2 separate regions of the Homo sapiens genome follow, and region 2 is linked to region 1. Evidence: fine-mapped expression QTL. Tissue or cell type: sigmoid colon. Region 1 holds a variant in brackets; the other region holds the start of a gene. All regions are shown on one strand. Distances are between the middles of the regions.

The links. PIP is the estimated chance that this variant, and not a neighbour inherited with it, causes the effect.
Region 2: it holds the start of SETX, and the variant in region 1 is fine-mapped to the expression of SETX in sigmoid colon (GTEx, PIP 0.99).

The regions. Positions count from the first base shown.
Region 1 is chr9:132,274,047-132,282,307 of GRCh38, reverse strand. It overlaps SETX (senataxin), which reads left to right. Exons shown (of 26, transcript NM_015046.7): 20 at 734-841; 21 at 4,051-4,238; 22 at 5,156-5,248; 23 at 6,888-7,052. Among named protein-coding and RNA genes, the nearest start is that of SETX, 77 kb to the left of the region's middle. The variant A/G (reference allele first, on the strand shown) is at 4,022.
Region 2 is chr9:132,350,839-132,358,838 of GRCh38, reverse strand. It overlaps SETX (senataxin), which reads left to right and starts at 3,853. Exons shown (of 26, transcript NM_015046.7): 1 at 3,853-3,922; 2 at 5,084-5,190. RefSeq lists silencers at 3,554-3,943, 3,994-4,203 and enhancers at 3,588-4,087, 3,069-4,268, 4,088-4,589, 7,597-7,646.

The DNA of each region.
Region 1 (8,261 bases):
AAAAAAAATAAGTTAAAAAATAAATAAAAAATTTAAAATAAAGTTTTAAAAGGACTTTAAAGGAGAAAAATTTTTCAGGCTCATGCCCAGCAGGAACAAAAAGCACGCATCTAGGATGTGCATGGCCTTCTGAACTTACGGCTGGTTCCCAAGTGGTAGTGGCCCCGTTGGTGGCTGACTTCAAAAATACAAGTTTGATTTTTTTTTTAGACATGTTTGGAGAGTTTACTTTTTATTTATTTATTGTTTTTTTTGAGACGGAGTCTTGCTTTTTTTTTTTTTTTTTTTAGAGACGGAGTCTGCACTCACCCAGACCGGAGTGCAGTGATGTGATCTCGGCTCACTGCAACCTCTGCCTCCTGGGTTCAAGCAGTTCTCCTGCCTCAGCCTCCCAAGTAGCTGGGATTACAGGCACTTGCCACCACGCCCAGCTAATTTTTTTGGTTGCGCCATGTTGGCCAGGCTGGTCTTGAACTCCGGACCTCAGGTGATCCACCCACCTCGGCCTCCCAAAGTGCTGGCATTACGTGTGTTAGCCACTGCACACAGCCTGGAGGGTTTATTTTGTTGGTTTTGTTTTGTTTTTTTGTTTTCAGGGAAAATTTGTATTTTTGATATTTGGTGCAGGAGAAGTGTGATACTTTTCTGAATGGTTAGAACTTTAATCAGATAAACTATATGGATAAATAGCAAAGATTGTTAAGACTGCCTCTCTCTTCTGTATCTTACCAAGGCTGGACAGTCTTGTGAAATTGAGACTCTTACTCCACTCATCCATCGCTGCAATAAGCTCATCCTAGTAGGAGATCCTAAGCAGCTCCCTCCGACAGTCATCTCTATGGTAAGTTTTTTATGTTCAGATTGCTTTAAAATGGAAGGGGCTTTTTAAAATTTTTGTTTTCAGGAGGGAGAGACATCTTTCTTGGATTGGCCTCTTAATTTGGAGGGAAAAGTAAGCAGTAACTAAGAAAAGAGAAGCACTTAATAAATTTTAAAAAATGCCTAAAAATGTCCATTTGGTCATAGTTGTTCTTCTGTGTATGTGTGGCAGAAGCAGTGTGGCAGGGACTTGGAAGCCTAGATGGATGACGTGCCATGGAAACCAAGCTTTGGGAAAGGCAGTGTGCATGTCTGCCTTTTTTAAGTCTCTTAAGAGCTGAATCTGATTTATTTTAATCATACAAACACCAAAACAATAATAAAAGAAAAACTTCAGAAATAAAGAGAAGAATCCTACCCTCCTCATTTTTGTTTAAATATGTACAAATTGAGGAAAACATGAAGTTAAATTAATTTTGGAGTACATTTCCATTTTTAGAATTTGGTATTCTAGTGTTAATACAAGAACATGTCTGTGCCCTTCACATCATCTGAAAGTGAAGGTACAGGGGAAAAAAAGACTCAATTACAAGCTCTGACTTTGGGAAGAGAAGAACCAGACTGTAGTCTACTCTTCTCTGTTGGTTTTTTTTAATCTCATGAAAGATTCTCCTGGAAATGCACATTAGAATCAGGATCCAGTAGATGTTTTGAAGTAATCTGAAGAGGTTTTGAAATTTAATGAAATGTGTATTTTTTACTAATAACATAGATTATTTATACAGATAATTGAGCAGTGGCTTCATAAATAATCCTAGAGAACAGATCATTTTCAAAGCATTTTTGTTGAAGCTTGGAATGAATGCAGGTGGTTATCGTTAGTGGTTTTTGATTTCGGAATTATTCAGAATGATAGTGCAGTTCTTTGTATGACATTTGAGCGCAGGTACATGATCATGTTAGAGTGTGGCCCAGAAGCACACCCGTCACCCAGTGAAAACCCGTGTGTGTAGGGAAGAACTGCTGCAGGTAACTTTGTTCACGGAGAATAATGAAGAGCAAATTCTGTATCCCATTTCTTTAAATGATGCAGGATTTCATTGAAGGGCCTTGGCATATAGTGAAAAGAGAGATTGTTAATGGGCCTCAACTTTACTGCCTACTTCAATGATTGATAAAAACAACAAAAATTAGAAAAAAAAAATCCATTTGTGCTGTTTAAATTGTTGTACAAATAAAACAGGCTATTTTGAGAAAATAATTACAAAGTTCATTTCCATAAGGTGCCTTTTTTGACCACCTGTTTCTAGTGGTAATTACAGTGAAAGTGAGTATTTTTAACAGATATTGCTAGGCATTTGTGTGTTTATTCGTCTTTTTCAGTATGTATATATTGAGTGCCACCATAATTCAGGCACTGTTTAGGGGCTGGGGTTATGACAGTGAAGAAAACAGACAAAATCCCTGCCCTTATGGTGTTTGTATTCTAGGGGTTAACAGTGAGTCAGTTACTAAAAAGTGGTATATGGTTTGTATACATGTATATGTTTATGTGTATATGTACGTGGGTTTGGTTTTGTTTAAAGGTGGCAAAATCATTCTGTGCAGAATTGGTTTTTTTTTCAATCAGTAAATCAGGGACATCCTCCCATGTCAGAATATATATTAATAAATCTATGTCATTTGTAGAATGGACTAAGGTTTTGTCTGGAGGTAGATGCGTTACCTTACATAACTTCCTTTTCTGTTTCCCCAAAGAAAAGATTAAAAATTAGGTTTTGTGAGCTAACGCAGATAAACTTTTGAGGATTTAGGGAAAATTGGCATGTATCTATTAATAATTATTTTATGCTTTCACAAACCTGTTTAAAATCACACATATAAATAGGTTAAGAAGTAATGCCTTTCTTCCACTCCCATAGTTTGTGAAACAAGTTTATTCAGGCTTTGCACGTCTTCAGTGCCAGTATCTTTCACATCACTCATGAAGATTCCATCATCTTAGTGAAGTTTTCAGCACATTTTTACTTCAGGGTTATTTAAGATAAAGTACTTTTTGAAACTTTTCTTTTTTAATTATACTTTAAGTTCTAGGGTACATGTTCACAACATGCAGGTTTGTTACATATGTATACATGTGCCATGTTGGTGTGCTGCACCCATTAACTCGTCATTTACATTAGGTGTATCTCCTAATGCTATCCCTCCCCCTCCCCTTTTTGAAACTTTCTGTGTTGCTGCCATCGGAAAGTAGATCCCAAGGCACAACTGTGGTAACATCAAGACAGTTTATCCCACTTGTCACTTAGGTCACTGTTTTTCAGATTGCAGAATATAACCCATTATTTGGTTTGTGAAATCCATTTAGCACAGCTTCGGCGTTCCTAATTCAAAAATTTGAAATGCTTCACCATCTGAAACTTCCCAAGTGCTGACTTTATGCTTAAAGTTCACGCTCGAAGGATATGCTCATTGGAGTATTTTGGATTTTTGGATTAGGGATGGTCAACACATAAGTCGAGTCTGTTTCCTTCACTGGAAATTAAGTCCTGTGAGACTTCATCTTATTCACTCTAGTGGTCTTAGCACTTCAAATTATAGATGCTTAGTACATATTAGATGGATGAATGAAGAATTTTGTCTTCAAAAGGCTTGTTTACAGTGGCATTCAATATGTCTGTCTGTGAGGGTGTACCCCCAGAAATAATTGTTAAAATCTGTGTTACATTTCCTTTATTACTGGTTTTTTTGGGTGGCGTCTTGTAGCATCAAAATAGCATCAGTTGTCTTTCACAAGATCATATCTCTTTCATTAGCAGTATATGAGTAGAAAAGACCTCCACATATATTCAAGATTCATGGCATTTTGGCCAGGTGTGGTGGCTCATTCCTGTTATCCCAGCTACTCAGGAGGCCAGAGACATGAGAATCGCTTGAACCTGGGAGGTGAAGGATGCAGTGAGCTGAGATCACGCCACTGCACTCCAGCCTGGGTGACAGAGCGAGACTGTGTCTCCAAAAAAAAAAAAAAAAAAAAAAAAAAAAAAAAAAGATTCATGGCATTTTGAGGCTCAGAGTCAGAAACACCTTTTTTCTCTGAAGCTGTGGTTGGTAATCTTATGCTACCTGAACGTTGCCATATACGTATTAGATCTCAGTAATTGTGTTTATAATAGTGGGAAAGATATAAATGAATTCTTGG[A/G]AACTGTTGCTTTATTTTGCCCCTCACAGAAAGCACAGGAGTATGGCTACGACCAGTCAATGATGGCTCGCTTCTGCAGACTGCTGGAAGAGAATGTAGAACACAACATGATCAGCAGGCTGCCCATTCTACAGCTCACTGTTCAGTACAGGATGCATCCAGACATATGCCTCTTCCCTTCTAATTATGTTTATAACAGAAACTTAAAAACAAATAGGTGAGTTCCCCTTATTGTTTGTGACCTTATTTTGTTGTAGTTTAGCTACTTATGAAGAATAGACATTTTACTGTCGTCTTAGGTCTTGTCATAAAAAGCATAAATCATGAAGGGTTAATAATTTTGTCCTGTTATAATAGCCATCATGTTGAATACAGCAAAGCACATAAAAAAGAAAAGGGGAAAAAGTCACCTATATTTATACTACCCAGAAATAATCACTGGTAACATTTTGGTATATCCACTTTCAGCAGTCCTTTTTTTTTTTTTTTTTTTTTTTGAAGACAGGGTCTCATTCTGTCACTCACACAGGATGAGTGCAGTGGCACACAGTCCTGGCTCACTGCAGCTTCGACCTCCCAGGCTCAATCAATCCACCTGCCTCAGCCTCCTGAGTAGCTGGGACTACACTCAGTCACCACCATGCCTGGCTAATTTTTGTATTTTTCTTTTTGTAGAAACGGGGTTTCGCTATGTTGCCCAGGCTGCTTTCGAACTCCTGAGCTCAAGCAATCCACCCGCCTTGGTCTCCCAAAGTGCTGGGATTACAGGCGAGAGTCACCGCACCTGGCCAAGTTTCAGTCCTTTTACTATGCATATCTTTTTTTACTTTTTAAATTTTTGAAGGAAAAATGTGGGACCATACTTAACATAGTATTCTGTGGCTTACTCTATTATGAGTGTCTTTCCAATCATACTTGTTATATTTTAATGATATAGACACCTCTCCCAGCACCAGGAAAGAAATAGAATTTGTTTTGTACCTTTCACTAATACACGTCTAGAAAAGAATATTCCTGCTATCCCCTTACTTGCCCCAGCCCACATCACCACACAGAAAAAATTGTAGTAATACCAAGATATTTTCTTAAATCTTGACTTTATTCTGAATGTTGACTGCTTTTTTTTTTTTACAGACAGACAGAAGCCATTCGATGTTCATCAGATTGGCCATTTCAGCCATACCTTGTGTTTGATGTTGGAGATGGTTCAGAAAGACGGGATAATGAGTATGTTTTCCTCTTGCCTCAGTCCTCTGATAGTCCCAGAATTGTTACATGATTTGCATTCATATTTCTGTTAAATACATTTCCTATACACATCTCTCTGCCTAGTGTCAGGGCACAGTCATGTTCACTTAAGTTGATGCTTCTTTTTTCTGTATAATGGGGATAATATTACCTAATGTCATAAGCAAGTGCTTGAGTAGATACTTGTTGAGCTCACAGCAGTGAGGGAAACAGACGTGCCCATTGCAAGATGGTGGTCTCATGGGAAGACAGGCCTTCAGCAGGTCATCACCTGGGTAAGCAGTTATTCCAGTTGGGTTAAGTACTGTGAAGGCTAAGTATAAATTCAGTTGAATGAAAATGTGAAAGGGAGGAAGGAAGTAGTGACAGAGGTTGGATGGTATTGGGTTGTGAATAAGGGCATGTGTTCAGGTGGTCTGTATATGACAGCAAAGAGGAGTGGTGTTGCTAGAAGCAGCAATGTCAGAGGAGCTGGGGATTCTTGTGAGAGAGTAGGGGAGGAATGGTCTAGGGGCAGCATTTGTTGGCACGGATACAAGTGCCACTCTGTCATGAAGTAGGAGGAAACACAAATCCCACTTCTACATCATGGGATGGCTGCAGAGCAGGTGGCGTCCTCAGGCGAGAATCAGGCGTTAGATAAGATACAGAGGTGGAAGTAGGGAACACTCATTGAAGAGGTTACACATACAGAGGAGTTGTTGGCCATGGGATTGTAGTGCTGGAGGGACTGCAGCCTAAAGGTTTTAATGAGGCCTCTTGGAGGAGAGCAGAGGATTGCGAGTTAAGCCGCAGAGCATCATGAGGATTTCAGGGATGGAAGAGATCGCTAGCTGATTGGGTTGTCCATTTAGTAAGTCTCAAAGTTAGGAGAATGGGTATTTAAGGCTCGTAAAGCAAGGCGGGTAAGGTAGCCTCAGGAATCAAGGGATGGGGCAGTGCATCCCCTGGTCTTGGTGCATTTTGGGTCCGGTATGGTCATGAGGGAGCATGTGTTTTCAGGAGGGGTTGAGAGTGCAGGATATGAGGCTGCTGAGGACTACAAAGAGGACATGAACCTGCTCCAGGGCCCCATGTTGTTCAACTGGGGTCAAGTGGGACACATCCTTCACATTGAGTCTGTGTGGATGGCAGCTGCTCGGTTGTGTGGTGTGTGTTGTATGCAGCCAGTGGTGAGGGACAAGGAAGATCATACATGTAAAGCATTTTCTCAGTGTTCGGAAGATAGTTAATCCTTAATTCATGTTAGCTATCTCTTATTCACATCTTTGTTCTTATTAATACTGCTGTTCTTAATACTGCTCTCCCTGTTTCAACAGATGAAGAAAGTGGTGCCTAAACTTCAGTTGATTTCAAACTCTTTTCTCTCTACAACTTCATTTTTCACTGGGCATTTCACATGTATTCATATTTACCATAGTATTTTCACATTTATTCATATATACCATATTAATGGTCATTGTAACAGCCTCTTGGAGTCACTGCTAGCTGAATAAAAGATGAAGCCTATCTGCCTGCCCTTTACTATAATGGGAAACAAACTCAGTGGAACTTAAGTTAGCAATTAGCCTGCTATTAGTTTTGATAACACTGTGTTTTCTTTTTCCATCTTGTTTAGCTCATATATAAATGTTCAAGAAATAAAACTGGTGATGGAAATAATTAAGCTTATTAAAGACAAAAGAAAGGATGTTAGTTTTCGAAACATTGGCATAATAACTCATTACAAGGCCCAGAAGACGATGATTCAGAAGGATTTGGACAAAGAGTTCGATAGAAAAGGGTGAGGCATTTTTATAAATATTTCCAATTTTCTTGTTGAATTAGAATGAGAGGATATAGAAGGAAAGAAGAAAAGGGAAACTCTTAAGGAGTGGTCTGTGCAAATTGGTGATACGGCACGAGGAAGCTGGGATGCTGCTGGCTTTCATAGACTTGTGCTGTGTGGCTCCTGGGTAGACAGGTTACTTCCTGGCAGTTGGAATGTCAACATTCTCCTTGGCAGTGGAATTGACTAAGAAACTTGCCAGGTCTTTACCTTTTAGTTCCATGACTTGTTCATCTGAATTCTTGTTCTAGCAAGACTAAAAGTAACATTTCACTTTAAATAAATGATTTAACCCTTGTATTGCCTTTATGTATAGAATGAAAATCATGTTTTTGTTTCCTTCTTACCTCAGCAGTAAAATTAAAGATTAAATATTGGAGATCCATAACCTTAAAATCATCTTAACTTAGAAGCACACAGACTACCAAAATCGAATCTAGAAAACAATAGAAAATCAGACCTGTAGGCTGGGTGTGGTGGCTCACACCTGTAATCCCAGCACTTTGGGAGGCTGAGGCGGGCAGATCACCTGAGGTCAGGAGGTTGAGACCAGCCTGGGCAACATGGTGAAACCCCATCTCTACTGAAAAAAAATACAAAAATTAGCCAGGCGTGGTGGCGCGCTCCCGTAGTCCCTGCTACTCGGAAGGCTGAGGTAGGTAAATCGCTTGAACCCAGGAGGCGGAGGCTGCAGTGAGCTGAGATTGCCCCACTGCATCACTCCAGCCTGGGTGACAGAGCGAGACTCCATCTCAAAAAAAAAAAAAAAAGAAAAAATCAGACCTTTATAACAAATAATGAAACATTTCCCAATAATGAAAAGCCCAGAACCAAGCTAAGCTGGTGAATTCTATCAAATATTAAAAGAAGAATGAACACAAGTCATTCTCACATGCTTCCAATAAATAGAACACTCAGATTCATTTTTTGAAGCCAGTATTACACTGATACCAAAGCCAAGGGAAAGTATCACAAGAAAACTACAGATCCAAATCCTTTATGACTAGATACAAAAATCCTCAACAAAATAGTGACAAACTGAATTCAGCAGGTTATTACAAGGATTTATACATCAAGACCAAGTGGGATTTATCCCAGGAATGCAAGATTGCTTCAACATATGAAAATCAATATGATATACCATATTAGAAGAATGAGGAGACC
Region 2 (8,000 bases), 77 kb before region 1:
ACAAGGTAATAATCTACCCACTCATTCCAGTTCAGGATCGCGGATGGCCAGAATCTTTCCTGGTGCCAGGTGGGTGCCAACTCTGGACAAGATGCCATCCCTTTGCAGGGTATACACTCACACACACACCCATGCTCACTCAGGCTAGGACAATGTAGACATGCCAATCAACCTAACTGGCACATCTTTGGAATCGGGAAGGAAATTGGAGTACCTGGAGGAAACCCACACAGACATGGGGAGAAGGGGCAAACTCCACACACAAAGTGGCCTCGGGGCCAGGCACGGTGGCTCACACCTGTAATCCCAGCACTTTGGGAGGCTGAGGCAGGCGGATCACGAGGTCAGGAGTTCAAGACCAGCCTGGGCAACATGCTGAAACTCCGTGTCTACTAAAAATACAAAAATTAGCTGGGCGTGGTGGTGCGTGCCTATAATCCCAGCTACTCAGGAGGCTGAGGCAGGAGAATTGCTTGAACCGAAACCTGGGAGGCGGAGCTTGCAGTGAGCCAAGATCGCATCACTGCACTCCAGAGCCTGGGCTACAGAGGGAGATTCCGTCTCAAAAAAAAGCCTTGAGCAGGAATGGATTTTTTTTTTCTCATCAATGTTATAACAAAACCACATTGAACAAAATGATCTTATTAGAGAACCTGCTATACTTAATATTGTTAAGGTGTCAATTGATTCCCCAGATGTATCTAAAAATACAATTCAATCCCTATAAAAATTCCAACTGCTTGTACTTATTTATTTGCAGAAACGGGACAAGCCAATTCTAAATATTCACATGGAATAGCAAGGGACCTTAAGTAGCTAAAACAATTTTGAAAAAGAACGATACTGGAGGCCTCATACTTCCCAGTCTTTTTATTTATTTATTTATTTATTTATTTATTTATTTATTTATTTATTTATTTATTTTTGGAGATGAGGTCTCACTCTGTCGCCTCGCCTCTCGGGTTCAAGCCATTCTCCTGTCTCAGCCTCCCAAGTAGCTGGAACTACGGGCATGCACCACTAAGCCTGGCTAATTTTTGTATTTTTAGTAGAGACCGGGTTTCACCATGTTGGCTAGGCTGGTCTTGAACTCCTGACCTCAGGTGATCTGCCCACCTCAGCTTCCCAAAGTGCTGGGATTACAGGCCTGAGCCATTGCGCCTGGCCATGTTTATGGTTTTATCAGCTTTAGAAGTTTGTAATTTGTACTTATTTATTCATTCCAAATAAGTATTAATTTTCATTTCTAATTTTATATTTACAAAGTCTATTGCAGTGCTTCTGTTTAACATTCTATAGGTTGTGTAAGTTTTGGGCTCAACAATTCCTGAATGCACCTTGAATCAATGAGTCTCAGGACATAACATTGAGTGTAAAAAGCAATTTGCAGAAAAATACATCCTCCATAATTCCATATACAGAGTTAAAAAGCATGTAAAATTTATATGTTGTTCACAGACAAAAAATGTGGGAAGATGATAAGGCCTACAGAGGGCTTCAGGGACAGGAGGAAATTATGACTTTTGTGGGCTCTGGGCACAAGTTACCTTCATGGCACTTTTCTCCATTAAAAAAAATGATAAAAATTATATTTTATGGCCGGGTGCGGTGGCTCAAGCCTGTAATCCCAGCACTTTGGGAGGCAGAGGCGGGCGGATCACGAGGTCAGGAGATCGAGACCATCCTGGCTAACACGGTGAAACCCTGTCTCTACTAAAAATACAAAAAATTAGCCAGGCGTGGTGGCACGTGGCTGTAGTCCCAGCTACTCGGGAGGCTGAGACAGGAGAATGGCGTGAACCCGGGAGGCGGAGCTTGCAGTGAGCCGAGATGGCGCCCCTGCACTCCAGCCTGGGCGACAGAGCGAGACTCGTCTCAAAAAAAAAAAAAAATTATATTTTATGACTGTGGTGGTATAAAGGCTGTGTTGGTATATTAGTGTTATATGATAAAACAAAATATGTTCAAAATATTTGACAGGATGAAGAAGTAGAAAAGAGGAAAATAACGGTCAACGCGTGCTGCTCCTTAGACGGTTAAATTTGCATAACGGCCACCACGCCCTTCCAACAAGCCACGCCCCCTTGCTAGAATCTTCCTTCGCCTTGGGCCTTTCCCGCAGTGTTCCCCTGGGCTTGCTCCTCATCCTCGGGCCAGGGTTCTCCTCGGTAAGGCTGTATCTGACCCACTTTTCCCAAGCTGGCCCATCTCAGCCTCTTTTTTTATCGCCTGAGTCACCACTACTAATTGTTTAATTTCCCTGTCTCCTCTATTAACTGTAAGACGGTGACGCTGCATCATCGTGGTCAGTAGTAGGCGTTACTAAAAGGGGGTAGGGGCCGGGTGCGGTGGATCACGCTTGTAATCCCAGCACTTTGGGAGGTCGAGGCGGGGCGGATCACTTGAGGTTGGAGTTTGAGACCATCCTGGCCAACATGGTGAAACCCCATCTCTACTAAAAACATGAACATTAGCCGGGCGTGTGGCACACGCCTGTACTCCCAGCTACTCGGGAGGCTGATGCAGGAGAATCATTTGAACCCAGGAGGCGGAGGTTGCAGTGAGCCGAGACTGCGCCACTGCACTTCAGCTTGGGTGACAGAGCGCGACTCCATCTCAAAAACAAAAAAGGGGGGGGATAGGCTTTCCAGTGGATTTTACTCATTTTTATTTATTTATAGACTTTTCTGAGACAGGGTCTTGCTTTGTTCCCCAGCCTGGAGTGTAGTGGCACAGTCACGGCTCACTGCAGTCTCGATCTCCCGGTCTCAATGGATATCCACCCCCTGCCTCAGCCTCCCAACAAGCTGGGCCCACAGGTGCTAATTTTTTTTTTTTTTTTTTTTTTTCCGGAGAGAGAGTCTCGCTCCTTTGCCCAGGCTGGAGTGCAGTGGTGCGATCTCGGCTCACTGCAACCTCTGCCTCCCGGGTTCAAGCCATTCTCATGCCTCAGCCTCCTGAGTAGCTGGGATTACAGGCACCCGCCACCACGCCCAGGTAATCTTTTTATTTTTAGTAGAGACGGAGTTTCACCATGTTGGTCAGGCTGGTCTCGAACTCCTGACCTCAGGTGATCCACCCGCCTCGGCCTCCCAAAGTGCTGGGATTACAGGCGTGAGCCACCGCGCCCGGCCTCGGTGGCTGAGTTTTAATTTTTTTTTGTACATACGGGTGTCTCGCTATGTTGCACAGGCTGGTCTCTGAACTCCGGGCTCAAGCGAGCCTCCCGCCTGGGCCTCCCAAAGTGGTGGGATTAGAAGCGGGAGCCACCGCACCAGCGAGGGATTTACTCTGCTGTGTTGCGCATCGCGCGCATTGTTCGCAAGACCTAAGGTCTCCCTTTCTTGTAATATAAAGGATATACACATATTCCTCCGAAATTACACGTTTATGTAATTTACATTTCAGGTCTTTAAAGGAAATCTAAAGAGAAAAATTACTTCGTCACCGTAGTACATCCGCTGAGACACCTGAGGCGTGGAAAAAAGAAGAAAAAAGAGGGAACGGAAATGGCCAGCGGGTAAGGGCTGACCCCACCCGCAGCAGAGCTCATCCCGGAGCCGCCCCACCCGCAGGAAGCCCCGGGCGGGGCCGAGGTCAAGGTTCCGCGGCAAACTCTCCCCGTCCACCCTGACGGGGACTCGGGATTGGTCGGGCCCCAGCTGCCCGGACGTGACGCCAGCGCCCGGCGTGGGCGGTGCACCGCGGCCGCTCTTCCCATGCCCCGCCCCCTGGGGGGCACCAAAACCAGAAAGCAGCGGCCGGGGCGGGGCCTGCGGCCGGCCGACTCAGCGCGGGGGCGGGGCCTACCTCGCGGCAACAGCTGGTTGGTAGCTGCGGCTGCGGGCCCGCACTTCCGCTGGTGGCCTAGAGCGGGGCCCGGTATGGAGGTGGGCTAGAGGCCGACGCCAGCCAGAGAGCGGTGAGGGTAGCGGCGGGCTGGAGGCCGTAGGTCGGGCGGGCGTGAGCGCAGGCGCGGCTTGTGCTTGCAGGGCCGCTTCGGGGAACCATCGCGGCGCCTAGGTCCCGGTGGGCGGATGGGGGAAGAGTCGGCGCGGGCTCGGCCGCTTCCCTCGGTGCGGGGGCGGGAGCACCCCTCGACGGCTGGCGGCCGCCTGTTGCCTTCCTGCGCGCTGGACCCGGCCGCTGCGACCCCCTGTCCTTCCGTTGTCTACACTGCGGTCTCGTGTGAGCTGTTTTTGGTGTGGATACTGCGTAGTTTCCTTGGGGCTGAGCGGGAGGTCTCGGGGTGGAAAGTGTCGGTTCCCTCCACACGCTCGTCTGCCTCTCGCCTGGAGTCCCTCCCTTTGTTTTTTTTTCTTTTTTCTTTTTTTTTTTTTTTTGAGACGGGGTCTCGCTCTGTCACCCAGGCTGAAGTGCAGTGGAACAGTCACGGCTCGCAGCAACCTCGTCTTCCTGGGCTCCAGCGATCCTTCCGCCTCATCCCCCCGAGTAACTGGGACCATAGGCGCGCGTCACCACGCCCGGCTAATTAAAAACAAAATGTGTTGCAGAGACAGGGCCTGGCTGTGTTTCCCAGGCTGAGCTCAGCTGCTCCAGGGATCCTCCGAGCCGCCGCGCCCGGCCGGTCCCTTCGTTTGGAGGAGAGTCTGTTTCTCCCACTTGGAGGGGCTGGAGCTTTTGCTGCTGGCCACAGGACTTTGTCCGTCCTCCCCAACTTCTGGGGATCTAAGGATGTGCCCAGCAATTTGCACGACCCAAGTGAAACGGGGGTGACTGCCTTGAGGGAAAAGAGCTCCACAAGGAGAAGGCCGAGTGTGGTATTTGATAAGTGACACAGCTGAGGATCCTAGGATTGATGTTACCTGCGCGGGCTAATAACTTGGGGGATTTTTGGCTCGGTGCCTAGCTGTCCCCGTGAGTGGGGACAGCCCCTTGTGGAACTGGGAGTCAGAATTGCAGTTCTGCTGTTTCCTGGAAGTCCACAGCCAAGTTGTCTAACCTATCTGGGCTTCCTCATCAGCCAGCAGTATCTGTCTGTAATAGGATCGATACCAGGCTCAGATGGGATATAGAGTATAAATGCCACTTACCAATTTCGTTTTTTGTTTTTTAATTTCAGAAATGTTCTTTTGGGGCCAGAGTCTGGGCATATATGAATGCAAATCCGTGTTTGTTCACAACTAAGCCCAGCTGAGACGATCACTTTTCTGTAGGCCATTTGTCCAGGTAATAATTTTTTTTTTTAGCAGGAGTTCAGAGCACCAAGGTAAGTGCAATGATGGAAACATGTGCAGAGTCCTAAAGGGACAGAGAAGAAGGTCATCAGAGATAGACTGGAAGAGAGGACGGGTCGGACAGGCCCCCCCCCCAGACGTGATGACACTCAGGAAGAGCTTGCACACTGGTTGTTCTCAAATCCAGCTTTCTCTTCGAATCTTAGTGGAGTTCTTTAAAAGGGAAACAATTTTATCCATAGGATCTTTTCTACTTTTTTTTTTAAGTTCCTGAGGTAAGTCTGATGTGTATTCACAGTTAAGTACCGGGCAGAGGTAGGAGGGTGGGTTTCCAAGGCCAGTGGAAGAGCTTCCATAAAGGCAGGGAATACCAGTCACCATGAATGGTTTTAGGAAGAGCAAGTCAAGGGAGGTAAGTGTGGAGGAAAGAGATGATGTGGAAGCTGGATCATCGCGGGCCTTGTGTGTGTTGAGCTCAGCAATTTGAATTTTATCCCAACATTGGAGGAGGAGTCATTTGTGCTTTCGAAGTCCAGTTTGGGGCTTTGGCCTCTGGCAGCATTTTGGAGGAGGAATTGATGGCGATCAAAGAAGAAATAGATCATTTAGGCTTCTTCAGTAATCCAGGCAAATGATGAAAATGTACTGAACTAAGGCAGTGGCGGTTGCACTGAGAAGAAAGTAGAGATGTAATTAAGGGGTAGGCTCTGGAGCTCAGAGATTGCGGCTGAGGGAGAAGGAGCGTATAGGATAATTCCTAGGTTACTGGTTTGAAAATTGAATGTATGGTAATGTCATCAACAAGGGAATATAGAACAAATAACAGATTTAAGGGAAGGACTTCGTTGGGTTCTGGTCATGTTTACTTTGAGGTGCCTGTCAGATATGTGAGTAGAGATACACTGTATGCAGTTGGATATTGAATATATCTGGAGTTCTAGGCTAGGCTGTCAGTTATTGAGTAGGTGGAACAGTGCATCATTTCACTCAACCTCCCCAGTAGCTGCGACTACAGGTGCATACCACCATGCCCAGCTAATTTTTATATTTTTAGTAGATACGGGGTTTCACCATGTTGGCCAGGATGGTCTTGATCTCTTGACCTCGTGATCCCTCACGCCTCGGCCTCCCAGAGTGCTGGAATTACAGGTGTGAGCCACTGCGCCCTGCCTGCATTAAGTTTTACAATACATTCTCAGTCTGGGCAGCTTCAATCTAGGCAGTAGTTGAAGCAGTGGTTTGAAGTAGGCCGCCCAGAAAGAGTACTGAATGAAGAGGTGAGAATTCTCAGGACAAGCCTTCGAAAACTTTAGCATTTATATGAGTAACAAAGGCAGGGGTAATTATGAAGGTGATTGGGTAGAAGTGGTGTCCAAAAAATGGTGTGTTGTAGGTAAGGAAAGGATGGGCAGCATTTTCATATGCTTTAGCAGAGTCAGGTCAGGAACCTATTGGATTGGTAATGTAAAGATTGTTAGGGACTTCACATTCAGTGGAGTGTAAGGGTAGAAGCCAGAGTGCAAAGGAGCTGAAGAGCTGGGAGGTAGTGAATCTAAACTTCCAGATGTTTAGCTGAGAAGTGTAGAAGAAAGAGATTGTTATTTGAAGTTTCTGGCTAGTTAATGTTGAGAAATGGATAGCCTAAGGATAAGTCTGTAGAAAATTACAGTAATACCTATGGTGAAGCATCCTATATTTTTGGTTTTGACACATTAGCTCTCTTTTTGGTGGGTGCTCAGAGAGTTGCTTTAATTTTGGTTTTGCAACTTGAGTATTGTCTGGACACACCCATTTGTCATTCACTAATGATTGCAAGCCGTTACAGTCTGATGAAACTAACAAAATAGACCTCAAGAAGAACTGAGTTGTATAAAAGCTTAAGAGGATTCACAGTAGTTTAGAAGCAATAATTTTCTCCTTAAAGACAAAATATGCCCTATTGAGGTTTCCTGGGCTTAGCCATTAGGCCAGTGATGATTTTAAATTTGAAGACAAAACCACACACACAGCCTTTTGAAGAAGAACCATGGAAGCACATGTTCTCTTGTTGGTGTGCTCTGCAGCAGTATTCTCCGTTATCTTCTAGCGGCCATGACACTCACCTATTTTGGTAGTAACTCCTATATATTTTGAGAAAATTTAGTCTTGCTTTTTTGGTTGTGGAAATAGGCTAGTTTTCTAAGTGAAATAAAAAGCAAATTCTGTAATTTTCTTAATAGAAGGTTTCTTTTGTTGTCTCCTTTGTTAGTACTTATTTTAAAGTACACAACATTTGGAGCTTCAAGTAAGGTAAGTGGGAAAAGAAGTATGCAACATTTTATTTGCATGGTAGTCTCACTTAAGTTTTTTAAAGCTTAAATTGGCTGCAGTCTGTTAGCTGCTGAAATCATGCTTCAAATGTTTGAGAAACCTCCATGAAGTTTCACTTTCTGTTCTTACGTCTTCTAAGTTCACTTTCCATATTAAACTAGGTTACCGGAAAAAAAAACAGCTTCTGCAAGCTGTTAACTTACTAGTAGTGTGATGTTGGCCTCTTAGGTATAAGTAATTCTTCTTTTGAATAAAATAATTTTAAATTCTGCAGAAATACATTGAAGACCTTATCCCATGTTACTTGGCATTTCCTAGTCTGCAGTGCCCTTGTACTAGAAGGCATTAATAAAATGTAATTGAGTTAGAGTTTGTGTCAGGAAAGGGCGGTACTCTGCGGCTATCACTGCATACTCTTTTTCCCCCCCACGTCGATGAGAACTGTGTAACTCATGTTATCCTTTTTCTCTGCTTTCAGGAAGCTCCTCATGT